Regions from separate parts of the Homo sapiens genome. Here region 2 is linked to region 1. A link means that fine-mapping ties the variant in region 1 to the expression of a gene that starts in the linked region. Tissue or cell type: breast. Region 1 holds a variant in brackets; the other region holds the start of a gene. All regions are shown on one strand. Distances are from middle to middle.

Evidence for each region. PIP is the estimated chance that this variant, and not a neighbour inherited with it, causes the effect.
Region 2: it holds the start of ABHD6, and the variant in region 1 is fine-mapped to the expression of ABHD6 in breast (GTEx, PIP 0.97).

The regions. Positions count from the first base shown.
Region 1 is chr3:58,418,030-58,426,132 of GRCh38, forward strand. PXK (PX domain containing serine/threonine kinase like) reads left to right here. Exons shown (of 18, transcript NM_017771.5): 18 at 6,723-8,098. The coding sequence ends at 6,931. Among named protein-coding and RNA genes, the nearest start is that of PDHB, 12 kb to the right of the region's middle. The variant T/C (reference allele first, on the strand shown) is at 4,461.
Region 2 is chr3:58,234,128-58,242,230 of GRCh38, forward strand. ABHD6 (abhydrolase domain containing 6, acylglycerol lipase) reads left to right here and starts at 3,665. Exons shown (of 10, transcript NM_001320126.2): 1 at 3,665-3,789. RefSeq lists an enhancer at 3,076-4,015 and silencers at 3,237-3,406, 3,417-3,906.

The sequences.
Region 1 (8,103 bases):
TCTAGTCTTGAGCTCTGGGGCTCAAGTGATCTGCCCGCCTTAGCCTCCCATAACAGTGGGATTACAGGCATGAGCCACCCACACCCAGCCCTTTTTTTAAAAAATGGGTTTGTAAGAGTATTTTGGGAAAGCTGAGTAAGCAGAGGACCCTAAATTGTTATTTAAAATAATTATATGTAATATATTTGAAGCACTTATTTTGTGCCAGGCACTGTTGCTTTATGGTCACTTGTTTCAGTTAATCATCGTGAATACCTTCTTATCCAGTGTGAGTGGACTCCAGCTTAGGTCCATTTTACAGTTGAAACTGACACTCTAGTAGGATTAAGAGACTTTGACCGAGGTCACACAAGTTAGGGCGGTGCTAGAGCCAGGAGTGTAACTTGTTCTGTATTTGTTCATTTACCCCATTGATGTATTGAGTGCCTGCTTTCTTCAGGGTGCGCTGCAGGGCCCGTGCTCTTAAATACTGTTGTTGGCTGGTGTGAAAAGAACCCTGAATGTTGAGTCAGTAAACCAGGGCTTGAGTCCTAGCTCTGCCACATTCCCGCTATGACCTTGGACAAATAATTTCTGTTCTTTGAGGCTTTTAAAAGACGTCTCGCTCTTTATTAGATAGATGGCATACATGGCGAGGCTTTATAAGCGGTAAAGCACTATCAGGTATAAACTACGAATGTCTTGCAATCAGATAATTCTAGCTGTTCTTGCTTGTAGTTTATGTTTTAACCAATAATTTTGAGGTGAGAGAGCTGGCAGTTTGTAGAAAACCCAGTTTGCAAGAATGAGTGGAGAGAAAGGGAAGTTTCAAATCTGCAGAGGAAGAGGTGTGGGAGCCCGCCCTCTGAAGGTCTGCTTAAAATTCAACTCGCAAAACAGATGAATAAGAGAAAAGGCATACAAGTTTATTTAATAAGAGAAAAGGCATACAAGTTTATTTAATATGTATACACAGGAGCCTTCAGAATGAAGACCCAAAGGTACAGGGAAAATTGTCCATTTTTATGCTTAGGTTCAACAAAGTATGGACAGCTGTGTGGAAATATGATTGGAAGAAAAGGCTATGATCTAATGCTAATAGGCTGAGTGGGGAAACCCAGCAAGTCTGTCTGTCTAGATTCTTCTCAGCCTCTCTGAGCAGCATTCCTTCCTTCTGGGTATGGGCAGGACTCTCTCTGGAATGGGGGTCTTACAACCTATAGTCAGACAAGGTAGGTCAGGTGATTTCTTTTCTTTTTTGAGATGGAGTTTCACTCTTGTTGCCCTGGCTGGAGTGCAATGGCTCGATCTTGGCTCACTGCAGCCTCTGCCTCCTGGGTTCAAGTAATTCTCCTGCCTCAGCCTCCCAGGTAGCTGGGATTACAGGCGCCCACCACCATGCCCAGCTACTTTTTTGTAGTTTTAGTAGACACAGGGTTTCGCCATGTTGGCCAGGCTGGTCTCGAACTTCTGGCCTCAGGTGATCCGCCCGCCTTGGCCTCCCAAAGTGCTGGGATTACAGGCGTGAGCCACCACACCCAGCCAAGTTATTTCTTTATGGACAGTTTTTACACAGAAAGGTGGAGGGAGAGTAATATTTTTAGGTATGATGGCTTGCTTTGGGGAAAAGGGGTTCTGTTTCTGTGACCCACCTTGGAGAAGGAGGGATTCAAGTTTCTCTGGCTAGCCTTGGGGAACAATGGTACTGAGAAGGCTGGAGGGCCTCTTTTCCGTTTCCCAGCCCCTTTCCAGGAAAAGGCTGTGGGGCAGAGTTGGTTCATTAGGAACTCTGAGATTTACCAAAGCATGATCCTTCACATTTAGCTGGGGATCTAGTCAGTTTAAAAGAAGACAAGAAAAACATTTGCCTTGCTTTCCTTTTTAAAACGGCTTTATGGCCTTAAGTAAGTTTCACTGCCCAATTCAGCCTCTAGGGAGGGGCTCACAGGGCCTCAGGGAGGGGCCCAGTGCTTCCGCCTTGAGGATGCTTGCCCAGGATCTCTGGCCTTAGGCCTGCTCACACTCCTCCCAACTTTAAAGAGACAAATCTATTGTAGACTCTAGAAGACTTGCTTGGAAAAAAGTTATGGGTTTTCATTTTTCTCCCATCTTGATCAACTGTCCTTGTTTAATAATAGAACTAAGCACACTCCTCATATCCATTCTGCTCTTCAGAGGTAAAACCTTCATGGCTTTTCTGAAGTGAGCGTCATGCTTGTAAATAAATAAAAATAGTATCTAACTGGCTCAGAGGACAAAGAACATGAAGAAAGTGACTCATTAGGTGGCTCAAAAAGCGACTCATTGGTTATTCTATAAATACGTTTGCCATGTTTTAAAAGGCTCACAATCGTGTTTACAAACCAGTGCTGTGGTTAATTTGAGTATATCCTAGTTTCGAAGTGAGAATAATCAGCTTGTGATTCAGACTAATATTTTACTGTCTGTTACTATTTGATTAAATGACACTAAAATCTGAATAATGACTTGTGTCCCCCCTTTCTCTCTCTCTCTTTGCTGTTTTCAGTAGAGCATGCACCATTTTGAACGTGAATTTTCGGTAAAGTAAACTATGCTGATTTCTCAGACTTTAAAGATGCTCTGTTTCTGTGTGTGAAATAGGACCCAAAGTGTCTCGATTGCTGAAGTGATGAACAAGTGGGAAAGCAGATTTGAGACTATTTCCTTATCTGAATATTTAAATGAAATACAGCATCTTTAAAAAGCACCCAGTGACTTCATCTATATTCATTTCATTTTCATCATGACCTTCAAAATCTTCATTTTCACTCTGATTTCAGTTTTAAAATACAGCTCTAAAACCTGCAAATCAACTGCATGGCATTTTGGTATATTTTAATTTTGGAAACCATAACTCTCAAAGTCCCGTTGCTGCAAAAATGTTGATTCCTAGTTACTCTGATGAAGAGGAAAGAGTGTTAGGCACTTGAGCTCTTAGTTACAGGGAGACAACTTACTGGCTTTTATAACTGACGGTAGGGAAAAACAGTTCTTTTGTAAGCATCCTTTATAATTCTCGAGCTGTGACAGGAGTACAGCCTCCTCACCTGCCTGAAGCCAAAGGAGAAGGTGGTTCTCCCGAGAGCTGGGGGCTTGCCTGCTTCGGTTCTCTCCTGAGGGTGGCTGGTAAGTCTGGTGTTACCCTAGTGTGGTCTCATGGCCACTTGGCCTCCCTTCCTGTATGTGACCACAAAGGAGCTCAGAATTAGAGAGACTGTAGATTACCCACTGCTGGCTGCTAACATGGGCCTAAGAGTCGGTGGGGAAGGGAGCCAGGCGCAGTGGCTCACATCTATAATCTCAGCACTTTGGGAGGCTGAGGCGGGCGGATCACAAGGATCAGGAGTTCAAGACCAACCTGGCCAACATGGTGAAACCCCATCTGTACTAAAAATACAAAAATTAGGTGGGCATGGTACCACGCGCCTGTAATCCCAGCTACTCGGGAGGCTGAGGCAGAGAATCACTTGAACCCGGGAGGCGGAGCTTGCAGTGAGCCGAGATCGCGCCACTGCACTCCAGCCTGGGCAACAGAGCGAGACTCCATCTCAGAAAAAAAGGAACTGGAGGGAGGGACCCTCAGACATCCTGTCCACAAGGCTGTCAAGGGGGTTTCTGGCCTGGCATTCCTCCCTAGATCTGACCTACGCTCTCCCTGCAGCATTCTCTGCCCTCTGACAGGGCCTCTGCTGGACTGCCAGGTTCCCGTGTGGTTTGGTGGAGAAGATTTTGGGGTGGGTAGAGTAAGTAGTTGGCTCTCAGGGATTTTGTCTAAGAGAAAGTGAGATGGGAGAAATCGGGACTGACCTGGTCGTAACTGAAGGTAAGCTGTTTGCAGCATCCCCCTTCCTGGGTGCAAATTCAGGTATCATAAGTCTAACATGGAATCGGTCTGCTCTCATATGTGGCCTGGAGATAAGGGTATTGGAGGTCTCTTGGCAGGAAGGCCTCATTCACATCTGAGGGGTGGAGAGCGCGCAGGCAGCAGGCAGTTGTTCCCAGGTTTGTCACAGGCCAAATGGTAACTTTCATTTGGCCCTTGTTGCCCCTGCCCCCTCTTCCTCCATTGTTAGCCATGTGTTGTAGCTGAAGCCCCAACGGACCTTTCAGGAAGCTTGTGGACCATGGAAAGGGCCAAAAGGAAAAGCCAAAAACAATCAATGGGGCAGACTGAGTGAGACCGAGTCCCAGGTCTGTGTTCCTGCCTCCTCCAGTTTCCACCTTCTGACCCCTAGACCTCCTCTCCCCTCCAGAGTGTTCCAAACTGGCAAGCTGGGTCTGGCCTTCCTTGCCCTGGTTGTACATAAGAGCCACCATGGTTGTTGTAGGCCCAGTGAGGAAAAGTGGACTTGCTGGGACATCAAGCCCCACCGGACTGCTCCAGCCTGCTGAGGCCACATCAGGGAGATCCTGCTGCCTGTCCTTTCGTTCCATCTGCTTTACTGGAGCCCTGGAGCCCT[T/C]TGGACAGTGTATTTATTGACACCACCTACATTTTCAAAGAGACTCATTTAAAGTGACAGTGGAAAATCCATGTCCATTTACTTGGACAGTGGAAAATCCATGTACTGAACCCCACCCTCAACTCCCAAACTCTGCGGTGGTGCATTTGCACTTCTAATTTTGAGGGCCTGGTAATGACGCCAAAACCAAGGGTTGGTTCTCTGTGAGGCCAAGCAGTTTTGTTCTGTGCCAAGATGGCAGCCCCTACCCCTCAGCCCAGCCCTGAGGCCCGTCTCCAGCCCCCCAAAATCCTTGCCTGGAGGGCTAGTCAGTCTCTAGATGGCCAGTGCTGAGCCTTTAGTAGAACTCCCAAGTACCGCCGCAGCCGAGAGCCTGTCCTTAACTGCACAGTGATTCTTCTGCCGGGGGTCAAAGCACAAACCTGGGAGGCAGAAACCCTGGAGCTCCTTCTGTTACACTACGTGGCCCTGAATATCAAGTCCAGATTCCACTGCCCTTTTCTGGCTATTGGGTGGGAGGGTGCTGGGGAAGGGCACTGGCACCTACTTACCCCCAAGTGGGCAGAGCTCACTCCTTCGGGCCCACTTGGTGTTGCAGTCAAGAGACTCAGTTCCAAAAACCTTCAGCAGAGGTCTCCCCTCCTCCTGGTATTTCACTGGTTGCTCTCCAGAAGTCCTCTTCAGAGGAATGCTCATCACACATGCTTATTCTCCGTTTTCCCACTTCAACAGTTACTTCAGGTTTAAAGTCCTTTTTATCTCTGTAACCTGGTGACATAAAGCCAGGAACATTTTCCCACAATCCACCTTAGCATAAAACATAACAATTTCATTCATCAGTTGTTATTGTGTAGAACCAATGAACATGTTGGTCATTTGTCTGTATTTAGTCTTTATTTGTATTGCTATCTTTGAGCATTCCAAGATTGCAGAGCATGAGCGTGTGTATTTGTGTGATTCTTTAATTTCAGCTGCCTTAGGTTTGAGTAAAAGATGTAAAGAAAGGTAAGTGATTTTCTATTGTAAGACTTTAACCCATACCTGTCACACTTGGTGAAAAGGATGTACTTACCTGAGTATTGTGTTGGTGATTCTGAGCCAGTCGTCCATACAAACTTAAGTAGGGTAGCTTTACCTGTTACTTATCACAACTCAGTAGCAGTGTAGGGGAAACCACCTGGCAGAATGTCTCCCTGGAGTAGCCCTGGGAGGGACAGAGACAGCATCTGACAGAGTCTCAGAGAGCTGCAAGGTCACAGGAGACGAGGCAACTAACTGTGGCACAGGAACATTCTTTAAGGCAAGGCTTTTTCTGAACTCGGGTGTTTATTCTGTCCTGAGAGAACCATTCATTGATTCTAAAATATAAAATTCGAGTTGCAAATGTCCATGTGCCTGGAAGCTGAGGGAAGTTTTAGACACCTGCCCAGTTTCCCTCTCCTTGCCCACTGCGGTACAGCACGACATTCTAGTTTCTCCTGATGCTTCGTCAAAGACATTTAGTGCAGTTATGTCCTGTTCCTTGGTTGGGCCACAATGGAGAGAACAGTACTTGAGAAGGATTTCTCTGTAAGAATACCATGGCAGAGAGACCCCTCTGCCCCCTGCTTTGCATTGCTAACAGTTATTAGCATTTTATATTTCTTTAATGCAACCTAATAGGAAATTATTATTCGAGACAGACTCCTCTGGGAAATGCATAACCCAGGAGGCACTGATTCCTTGCTGAGAATCCTGAGTGGTCTGTCATTTTACATAAGATCACATCCTTCAAACATTGTGTATGTTGGAGCAGCGAAAGAACTGTTCACCCCTTATGAATAACTGACATTCAGGAAGCCCAACTCCATCATGCAGATGTCTATCTTTAATTGCTAGCTCAGAAGCAGACAGAGCTTCCTGGGACCTGGCTAAAGTAACTGATAGATGGAACTCTTCTTTGGGGACTATTACTTTGCAAATGGGGTCAGAGCCTCATCTATGCAGAGAATGTCACCATATGTGGTTTCATGTAATCTGTAATTATTTGTTCCAACAGCCTTTAACATGACTATTGTTTGAGAAACATGGCAACTTTTAATTCCCCTTTGATGCTTCTAGCTTTCTTTAGTATTTTAAGAACTCATACAGTACTAGGTATGTTGGTCCCTCTGAGAAAAACATGTGGACTCTCACCAGTCCGTTGTGCTCAGGACTGAGCAGCAGCGTGTGTGCAGGGCAGCTGTGGAGGTGAATACTGATTGTCCCCCTTTTCCTCCACAGGGATATCTGCATTACCTCCACCTCCTCCACCTCCACCACCACCAGCAGCTCCCTTGCCTCCTGCGAGCACCGAGGCACCTGCCCAGCTCTCGTCTCAGGCTGTGAATGGCATGAGCCGAGGGGCCTTGCTCAGCTCCATCCAGAATTTCCAAAAAGGAACTTTGAGGAAAGCCAAAACCTGTGATCACAGTGCTCCGAAGATCGGCTGAAGCTTCCTGTTTACACTTGGAGGGAAAAGTTCTTTTTTATTCCTACTCACCCCTACCCCCCAAACTACCCTCTTCCTGGGAAAGTAATTGCTGAGCCAGTACAGCCACAAACAGTACTATTTTGCAGATGCTCATGTAAGCAGCTTTTCGAGAGAAATAATTCTTTAAGCAGAATAAAGTTAGGCTGGCATTGCTCCCTTAAGATCTTGCTCCTTTATTAACCCTGTAAAGGAGTCTTGTTTATCCTCTAATGGCCAGGCTTTTGGGACAGCAGCATATTGAAATATTTTCACCAACTAAAGGAAATAGACAGAAAAACAATGACAATATTCAATCACAGCAGTAAATGGCCTTTGTGTTGCAATCCCTTCTACCCCATCAGACAGCTCCTAGAAACATTCCTCTTACAGTTCATTTCTCTAAAGCATTTTCTGATTCTTAGATAACTCCAATTTTTGCTACCTTTATCTTAGACATTAACACTATAGCCCAAAGCATAGTTACTTTGCTAAATCAGAAAGCAACTGAGTTCTTTGTTTTCTCCTCAAATAGAATGGGGAACGTTCACAACATTCTCTTAAGTTCTAACAGGAATACCATTGTGGTTATAGAACTCAGGGCTGCTAAAGCAACTACTCTAGACCCATAGTTCTTTTTAGTTAGATGTATTGAAACAGACAAAAATATTAACATCAGAAAAAGCTCTTGCCAATTAGAGGATCTTCTTAATCCTCAGCAATTAAGTTTGGGGTTTGAGGGGGGCAGGTCATTGTTACAACAGAAGTAAATTTGGCATCTATAGAAATCAATTATGATTTTTGAAAGATTTATCTAAATATATCAATATAGCATCTCTTTAATGTTAGTCATTTATTAGAAAGATCCTTTATCCTGATTTGCTTAAACCTTTCAATAAATTGCACTTTAAAGGATTATAAATAATCCATTTAAAAATTCAAGTACACACATCAGTGTTGGTTACTATGCAGAGAATGTCATTGTGTATAGTTTCATGTAATCTGTTATGTCAGCTGTATTTTTTATTAAAATCATGTCAAGAAAACGTGTTGTCTGTAGCTTGACAAGATATTTCAAATGAGAACTTTTTGTAGCGTCTGTTGTTAGCAAAGAATAGATTCACACAGTCTAAGGTTTCCTTCCTACCTATCCTG
Region 2 (8,103 bases), 180 kb before region 1:
ACAGCAATGCAAAAACAGACTAAGAGGCCAACATGGGGAAATCTTGTCTCTACTAAAAATACAAAAATTAGCTGGGTGTGGTGGCAAATGCCTGTAATCCCAGCTACTCAGGAGGCTGAGGCAGGAGAATTGCTTGAACCTGGGGAAGTGGAAGTTGCAGTAAGCCGTGATCGTGCCGCTGCACTCCAGCCTGGGCGACAGAGTGAGTGAGACTCTCTCAAAACACACACACACACAGACTAAGATATTTGGATAGGTGATTTAACACATTTGGGTAGATTTGAGGCTCAGAAACTCTCTGAGCCTCAAAATGTTCCTCATTTGTAAAATAGGGCTAATAACAGAGTGGTTGGGAGGAATCCATGAGATAATGCTTGTAAAGCACTGAGCACAAGGTGAGGAACACAGGAAAAGCTCAACACATGGTAGCTAATTAACATTTGCCTGTTCTGTGCTACTCATCATGCTTTTCCCTGGGGAGATGGAAGTGGAAAAGGAATTCACAACTCCGTGGAGTTGAGAGTTGCCTAAATAAATAAACATATCGTCATGTATAATGTGCTACAGGGGTGTGGACGATGGAAAAATTAATTTTGCCTGGATAGTCAGGTAAGGCTGCTGGGAGGCAGTGATACTGGAGTTCCAGATTGGGCAGAGGCCTCAGGGATTGGCTCAGAGTTGTCACACAGCAAATGCTTGGGGAATAGATGGTACGAATGACTCATAAGCTCAGGGGTGCTGCCCAGCTGGTGTCTGTGTACACATGGTATCTTGTGTTTTTTGCTTTTCTCCTGCACACATTTCCATGTGCTGACATGGCTTTTGTGTGATTCCCTCACAGCTTGTGTGTGATTCCCTGATTAAATAGCTTCTAATATTTTATTATTATAAATAGACTCTAAGTCCTTGAGGGCAAGAAGTGTGTCTCTGTTCATCCAGACAGTACCTAGTATGTAGTAGGTTCTCAGTAATGTTTGCTACATAAATGAATGAGTGAACTCCTTTGACCGCTGGCCCTGCCATAAGCTGGCTGTGGGATCTTGAGTGAGTCCATTAACCCCTCTGTACCTCGGTGTGTCTGTAAAGTGGGTTAGTATAACTCACAGGTGAGCATATTTCACTATGTGTTGTGAGGACTAAGTGATTTGATGCCCTGCGGCTGAAGGTAGTAAGTGCGCATTAAATAATGGCATCCTTCAGCTCTGATAGCTGTGCTGCTGCATCCAGGAGACATGTACAGGCTTCATGGCAGAGTGAATCCTGGAGTGTTCTGCTGCAACTGCTGGCAGAGGAAAGGTTTCAAAACTCTTTCTTAATGCTAGGGTGAGACCTGTCCACTGATAAGGAGTTTCTATTTGGGATGACTAAAGGTGCCATCTGGAAAGTACCAGGCCCCTGGGACTGCTCCCTGGTCTCCCACCTAGGTGGGATTCCTCAGTGACAGCACTCAGGGGTATCACCGGCTCAGGGAGGGGCCGGAGGTGAGTTCCCTTATCTCCTCTTGCCTCCTTCACTGTAAAACTGGAGCTAATAAGGTTTCTCTCCTGTCAGCCATCCAGTGGAGATAAGTCACCCAGAATGTGACTCCCACATGGGGCTCAAAAAGGTGTTTCTAAATATAAAACTCTGAGGGAAAAAAACCCTCGGGATATAGAAATTCCAGGCCCTTGGAGACGCCCAGGGTCACAGGCTGTGAGTTAAATAAAAAACCCACCAAACTGATGAACTACCCATTTTTAAGGTTTTGGAGAGGGAAAATTAAAAGACTAAGGAGCAATTGTTTTAAACTTTATACCAGGTGTATTGATGGCTTCTAGGCTGGGGCCTTCCAGGAAGTCATTCATCAATTTCATTGTCTATTTATTCACCCCCTGGACTCCTGTTTTGGTGAATGTTCCTGAGTCCAAGATGCTAATCCAATAGGTGGCCAGTAGTGACTGAAGGACATTTAATCCCCACATTTTGTGCTATCTCTGTGGACCTGCTCTGGGGATGTTGGTGGACTGCTGGCTTGGAAAGGTTCTGCTTCAGCCGTAAGGAGAGATAAAGCCAGAGAGGTGGGACTGAGCAACCCGCTGTTTGGTGAATAAATTGCCACTGAAACTCGGGGGCCATTCCCTGAAGTGAATCACATGCAGCCATTGAAGTCTAAGTGATAAGGCAGCCAACAATTTAAAGGAAAATGCTCCAGCCCAAGCCAGGGGGACTGTCCCAAACTCCGGATGAATTCCAGCTGCCCTGCAGAGCAGGGTTTACAGGCATGGGGATCACTAGTGGCTTCAGAGATGCCCCTTTGCCACTTCTCCGGGACTTCTTGACTGTGTCCTATTCTTAAAACCCAGGACCTGCACCACTCAGCCAGGCTCCACCAGCGTGGAGGCCTTGGCAGGCTGAGGCCCAAAGGCTGCCTTTGTGGGGGATTTAAACGGCCAAGAGAGTCTTGCTGAGCCCTGGCCCCTTGACGTCTGGAGTGGCAGGCCAAGCACTCAGTGCAGCAGGAAGATCTGGGTGCCACTAAGGCCCCTAACAGGTGTAGTAAATATCTGTTAAATGAACGAATACATGTTTTGATGAAAGAAGCCCACAGTGCAGTGTGAGCCCAAAGGGGTCTTACTGAAGGCTTCCTGGAGGAAGTGGCAGCTAAACTGAGACATGGAAAACACGGAAGAGTAGCCAGGCCAAGCTGGGGTTTAACTGTCCCTAAAAGAAAGAAACGACCATAGCAGGGGTTTAACCAGAGGTGGCCGAAGGCCTTTCCAGGTGCCCATTTCTCCCGTATAGCTTTGGAGTCAGACGATCCTCGGTTGGAATTCCCAGTTCAGTCCTTACAGTCTGACGTCCCGCACAACCCGACGCCGGCAACTGTCTCCAAACACCCGAGAGCCAGGGCGGGAGCATGAGCGCCTACGGTGTTCCTTGGGGTGGAGCCCTCGCAGTGTCCAGAGGATTTGGGGGCTCCTGCGCCCCCATTTCTCCCATTTCCTGGACTATCCAGGGCAAGCCCCTCACCTCCCTGAGCCTCGGTGTCTTCTGAGAAAAGAAGTCGACCCCAGTGCCTACCTCATAGGATTACGTGAGACAACCGATGTCAAGCAGTGTTGCTTTGCTGCCTGAGAACCCCTGCCTGTCCCTTTCTCTCTGATGCCCTTCGGGGCAGAGATCCAGAGATCCTGCCTGAGTCACTTTGGCGGGTTTAATGCCCAGCCGCGCCAGGCACACAGTAGGTGCTCAGTAAGTGAAACAGTGCCGGGAAGAATTCGGGCCGGGGATGTGGAACTGTGTGTGGCTCTGCGGGCTCAGAGGCCCTCCCCGCGCCCCGCCACCGTGTGCGTTCCGGGGCGGGGCGGGGCGGGGGCGGGGGCGGGGGCGGGGGCGGGACCGGGCGCTCGGGCTCCGCCCCCGGTACCTCTGTAGGCGATCCTGCTCTCGCCGTGGCTTTCGGGTGCTAGGAGACAGTTGCCGGCGTTGGGTTGTGCGAGACGCTAACTGTACCCTCCGGGTTTAACGCTGTGAGGCAGCGCGCGGAGGAACTGGGGATAAGCGCCCCGGAGCCCCCAAACAGAGCGCGGCCGCTGGGGGACAGCGCGCGGCGCCGGGTCGGGGCGGGGCGGCTTTTCTGTCGGAGGACGCGAACCGGCACGCTGCGCCTTTAAGGAGTCCAGCTGGGCTGGGCGCCGGAGCTGGGAGCGGCGCGGGTAGGAGCCCGGCGGCAGGTCCCAGCCCGGGGCTAGAGACCGAGGGCCGGGGTCCGGGCCCGGCGGCGGGACCCAGGCGGTTGAGGCTGGTCAGGTGAGCGGAGGCGGGCGGGCGGGCGGTGGTGCGCTCCTAGGGGGATGGGGCGCCCTGATGGCCCCGTGACCTCTCCCCCAGTGTCTCCCTGCAGCGGCGCATCGAGTGGAAAGAGTCGGCGATCTGCACTTGCCTTTCCACTCCGCTCCCCGCGCGGGCGCTGCCCCCACCTCCCGCTGCCTGGATAGGTTTGAGATGCCCGAAACCCGGCGCCCCATTTCCTGGGTCCAGCCAGCCTCTTGAAGCCGGGGGACAGAGTGAGGACGGGTCGGGACCTGCACCCTCTTTCTACTTCGCCTCCCCACCCCCTGCGCCCGCAGCAGCCCTTAGGCGCCCCTCGCAGTGCCGAGAGGATTTTGGGGTCCTGCAGCCCTGTTTCCCCCATTTCCTGGAGAAGGACTGCAGCTCGCCCACCCAGATAGCATCTTGCTCCGTGTCACGCGCCGCCTCCGCGCCGTCCCCAAGATCTCGCTCCGCTACTCCCCTCCCCCAGCAGCCTTTCAGCTTCCCTTTCCCCAGCCTGCCCCGGCTCCCGTGCCCTTGCGCCCCTTCCGTGTCGAAACACTTGAATCAGGATGCTGTCCAGCCAGGTACCCGCCGGCAACTTGCGGTCCCCCGCCTACAGCGACACAGGTTTCACGGCTGCCTTAGAAATGCGGATTGTGTAACGCCGGCTGCAGGGCAGTGCACGTGCAGGGTTTGCGCCCCTGAGCCCACAGCGAGGCCAGGTGACAGAGTGAGGCATGGGGGAGTGGGGGAAGAGGAGGATGCCAGAGGGTCTAGATACTGTGCATGCAGAGAATATGTATTTTGAGCCCTTTGTATGCCCCAGGAGCTGGGTGGTTAGGAAGAGGAAATAAAGTGGGGGTCTTACTCCAGCTGGGACCTGGAGGCCCTCATTTATCTCGCCGCCCCCCTCCCCGCTGCTCCCGCCTGCTCAGAAATCCCTAGTGGCTCCACCTGGCTAAGAGTTTAAAGTAGTTTATAATGAATAATAGCTGACATAGAATAAGCAAATCTTGTGTGCCAGGCCCTGTCCTAAGCCCCTTAAAAGAATTACCTGCCATACTTTCCCCAACAGCCCCTTGAGGTAGGTACCACCGCTGTGCCCATTCCTGAGAGCAGGAATATGAGGCTTCCAGAGGTGGTACCTTCCCAAGACACGAAGTGAGTCTGGCCTCAGAACCACCCCCTTCCCCCAACCGCCCCCCCAACCCGACCTCGAACCACTAGACTTTTTACCCAATTTCAACAAATTCTTATCAAGAACATTGTTATAATATAGGAAATTAGAAATAACAGAAATTAATCACCTGTGTTTCTAGCACTAATTTGTTTTTCTCAGACCAGCAAGGGCCTCTCAGCTTCTGGTAATAGTACCCACTTTAAAGGGTAGTGGCAATATTTAGATAAAATAATGCACAGGGCCCAGCATGTTTTAAGCACTCAGAAAGCAGCAGCTGTTATTATGAAGAGTGGTAGTTGACCACTACCTTGAATTACTGGAAAAAAATAATTAATAAATGGCTCACACTGACTCTACAGAAATTAACCATTTTGTGTGCTCAGAAAGGCCTATGAGACTTTCTCTATTTTCATCTTTTTATTATTTTTATTATTTTGCCTTTTCGACACATTCTGTGGCTTTCGTCAACTCCAAATTATCCATTGTCTTTGTAGTTAGAGACAGAAGTGCCCTTCTGGTTTTTTTAGCTTTTAAAATGTGTGACCTTTGATTCTGTGAGCATCTGCAAACCTAGAGTAAAAGATGGGAATGCAGTTTGTGCAACTGGGAAGTAATTCTGAAACTTGATATGAGAAAAAAATTGTCCTTAGAGGTGATCCTGGTTTGCAGTATGCGTTGGGTGAGGTCTATCCTGGGGGCGAGAAGTTAGACTCAAAGATTATCTTTGGGTTTGGAGGGAAGAAAGGCAAGCATGAATGTTTTGTCTCGGTGTGGTGGGCTCACACCTCAAAGTGGCCAGCACTTTGAGAGGCCAAGGCAAGAGGATCACCTGAACCCAGGAGTTCAAGACTAGCCTGGGCAACATGGTGAAACCCCATCTCTACCAAAAAAAAAAAAAAATTAGCTGGGAGTGGTGTTGCGTACCTGTAGTCCCGGCTACTTGGGAGGCTGGGGTGGGAGGATTGCTTGAGCCTGGGAGGTCAAGGCTGCAGTGAGCTGAGATTGCTCCACTGCACTCCAGCCTAGGTGAAAAAGTAAGACCCAGTCTCAAAAAATAAAATAAATAAATAAAGAATGAGTGTTTATCCTAGTAGGCTAGCTAAGATTGGAAATCAGCTTCACTATGTCATATTCTTTAAAAAAATTTTTTTTTTTAGAGATGAAGTCTCACTGTGTTTCCTACTCAGGCTGACCTGGAACTCTTGGGCTCAAGTGATTCTCCCACCTCAGCCTCCCAAGTAGCTAGAACTACAGGTGTGCACCACCACACCTGGCATGCTATGTCATACTTTTTATGAAACTCCTGGTTATTTTGGTGATTAGATCAATTATTACCGTGATGAGTGTTCAAAAGAAAAGAGGCAAGACATCCCCATCAAAGCTAAATATTTGGAAGATGCCAGGAAGCTAGTTCTGCAAGTTGAAAAAAAATTCTTTAAAAATTTCTCCTATTTGAGTCTTAAAAAAATTTTTTTTTTAAGGGACAGGGTCTCACTCTGTTACCCATGCTGGAGTGCAGTGGAGCAATCTTAGCTCACTGTAACTTTGAACTCCTGGGCTCAAGCAATCCTGCTACCTCAGCCTCCTAAGTAACTGGGGCTACAGGTGTGCACCACCAAACCTGGGTAATTTTTTTTTTTTTTTTTGAGACGGAGTCTTGCTCTGTCGCCCAGGCTGGAGTGCAGTAGCGCGATCTCGGCTCACCGCAACCTCCGCCTCCCGGGTTCAAGCAATTCTCCTGCCTCAGCCTCCAGAGTAGCTGGGATTACAGGCATGCACAAGCACGCCTGGCTAATTTTGTATTTTTAGTAGAGACGGGGTTTCTCCATGTTGGTCAGGCTGGTCTCGAACTCCCGACCTCAGGTGATCTGCCCGCCTCTACCTCCCAAAGTGCTGGGATTGCAGATGTGAGCCACCGCGCCCGGCCAAACCTGGATAATTTTGAAATTTTGTTGTTGTTGTTGGTTGTCACAACTTGTAGGTAACATCAAGTGGGTAGAGGCCAGGGATGCTGCTAAACGTCCTACGATGCACAGGACGGTGCCACAACAAAGAATTATATGGCCTCCAGTGTCACTTGTGCCACAGTTGAGAAACTGAAACTGGATATGATTTTCACAACATTAAAGTCCTTTCTGACCTTGCATGTAGTTGCCTCTTCCAAGAAGATCAAAGTATTCTCCTAAACCGGACCCTCAGAAACCCTCTGGATCCTATTTGACGCTTCCCAATCCTAGAGGCCACTTGGGGTGTTGCTGCCTGTGGCTGGATGGGTTTGGGGTCTGTCATGAGCTTCTGTGCGGCTCTCTGGTGCTGTACCAAGGAAACTGCTGATTCAGGGGAGCAGGACAGCACTCAGGAGGTGTGGGCAGAGGTTCTTACACTGCTGCAGGTTGGGATCCTCTTCTTTTTAAGTAATATATTAACAGCAGCCTTTGCTCTTAGGCATTTTTCCAGAAGCTGTGGCTGTTTGGCTGTTGGCATTGGGTGTTTGCCTTGTGATATACCCAGAAAAGGATTCATACGTTACATATGATGAAGTCTGGGGATGGGACTGGATTCTGAGAGTATAAAGATGGCAATGCAGACCCTGCCCAGAGACTACTCAGGCATCTCAATAGGCCTGAGCAGTGGCCATGCAGGGTGGTGGAGGTATGGCAGGGCTGCCTAACTCTGCCTGTGAAGTCAGGCAAGATCCCAGCAGTGCAGAGTGAATGCTTAGTATCTGCCTGTCACTGCTTTGAACAGTTTCCTTGCATCATCCCATTTCATCCCCACACTGAGGTAGAATTCTAAGAGGTTAGGTCACTTGCTACAGTCACATGGCAAGCATGTGACCAGAGCAGAGTCACAGTGGTCAATGGCAGAGCAGAGATTTGAACCCAGGTTGTTGAGCTGCAAAACTGAACTGTCAGGAGCATTTACAGAGAGCGGCAGTGCTTTAATAGCTAAGACTTTTAGGATGGGCTGGAGCTCGCCAGGCGAGAGGGAGAATAGGCGTGCCGGGGAGAGAGGAGCAGGTGTGTCAAAGTCCCGGAGGTGTGGGAGAGCACGGCATGTCTGGGGGTTGCAGATCATTATTGGAAGGGATGGAGGGCAGGCAATAGGCAGGTGATAGAAGAAGATGA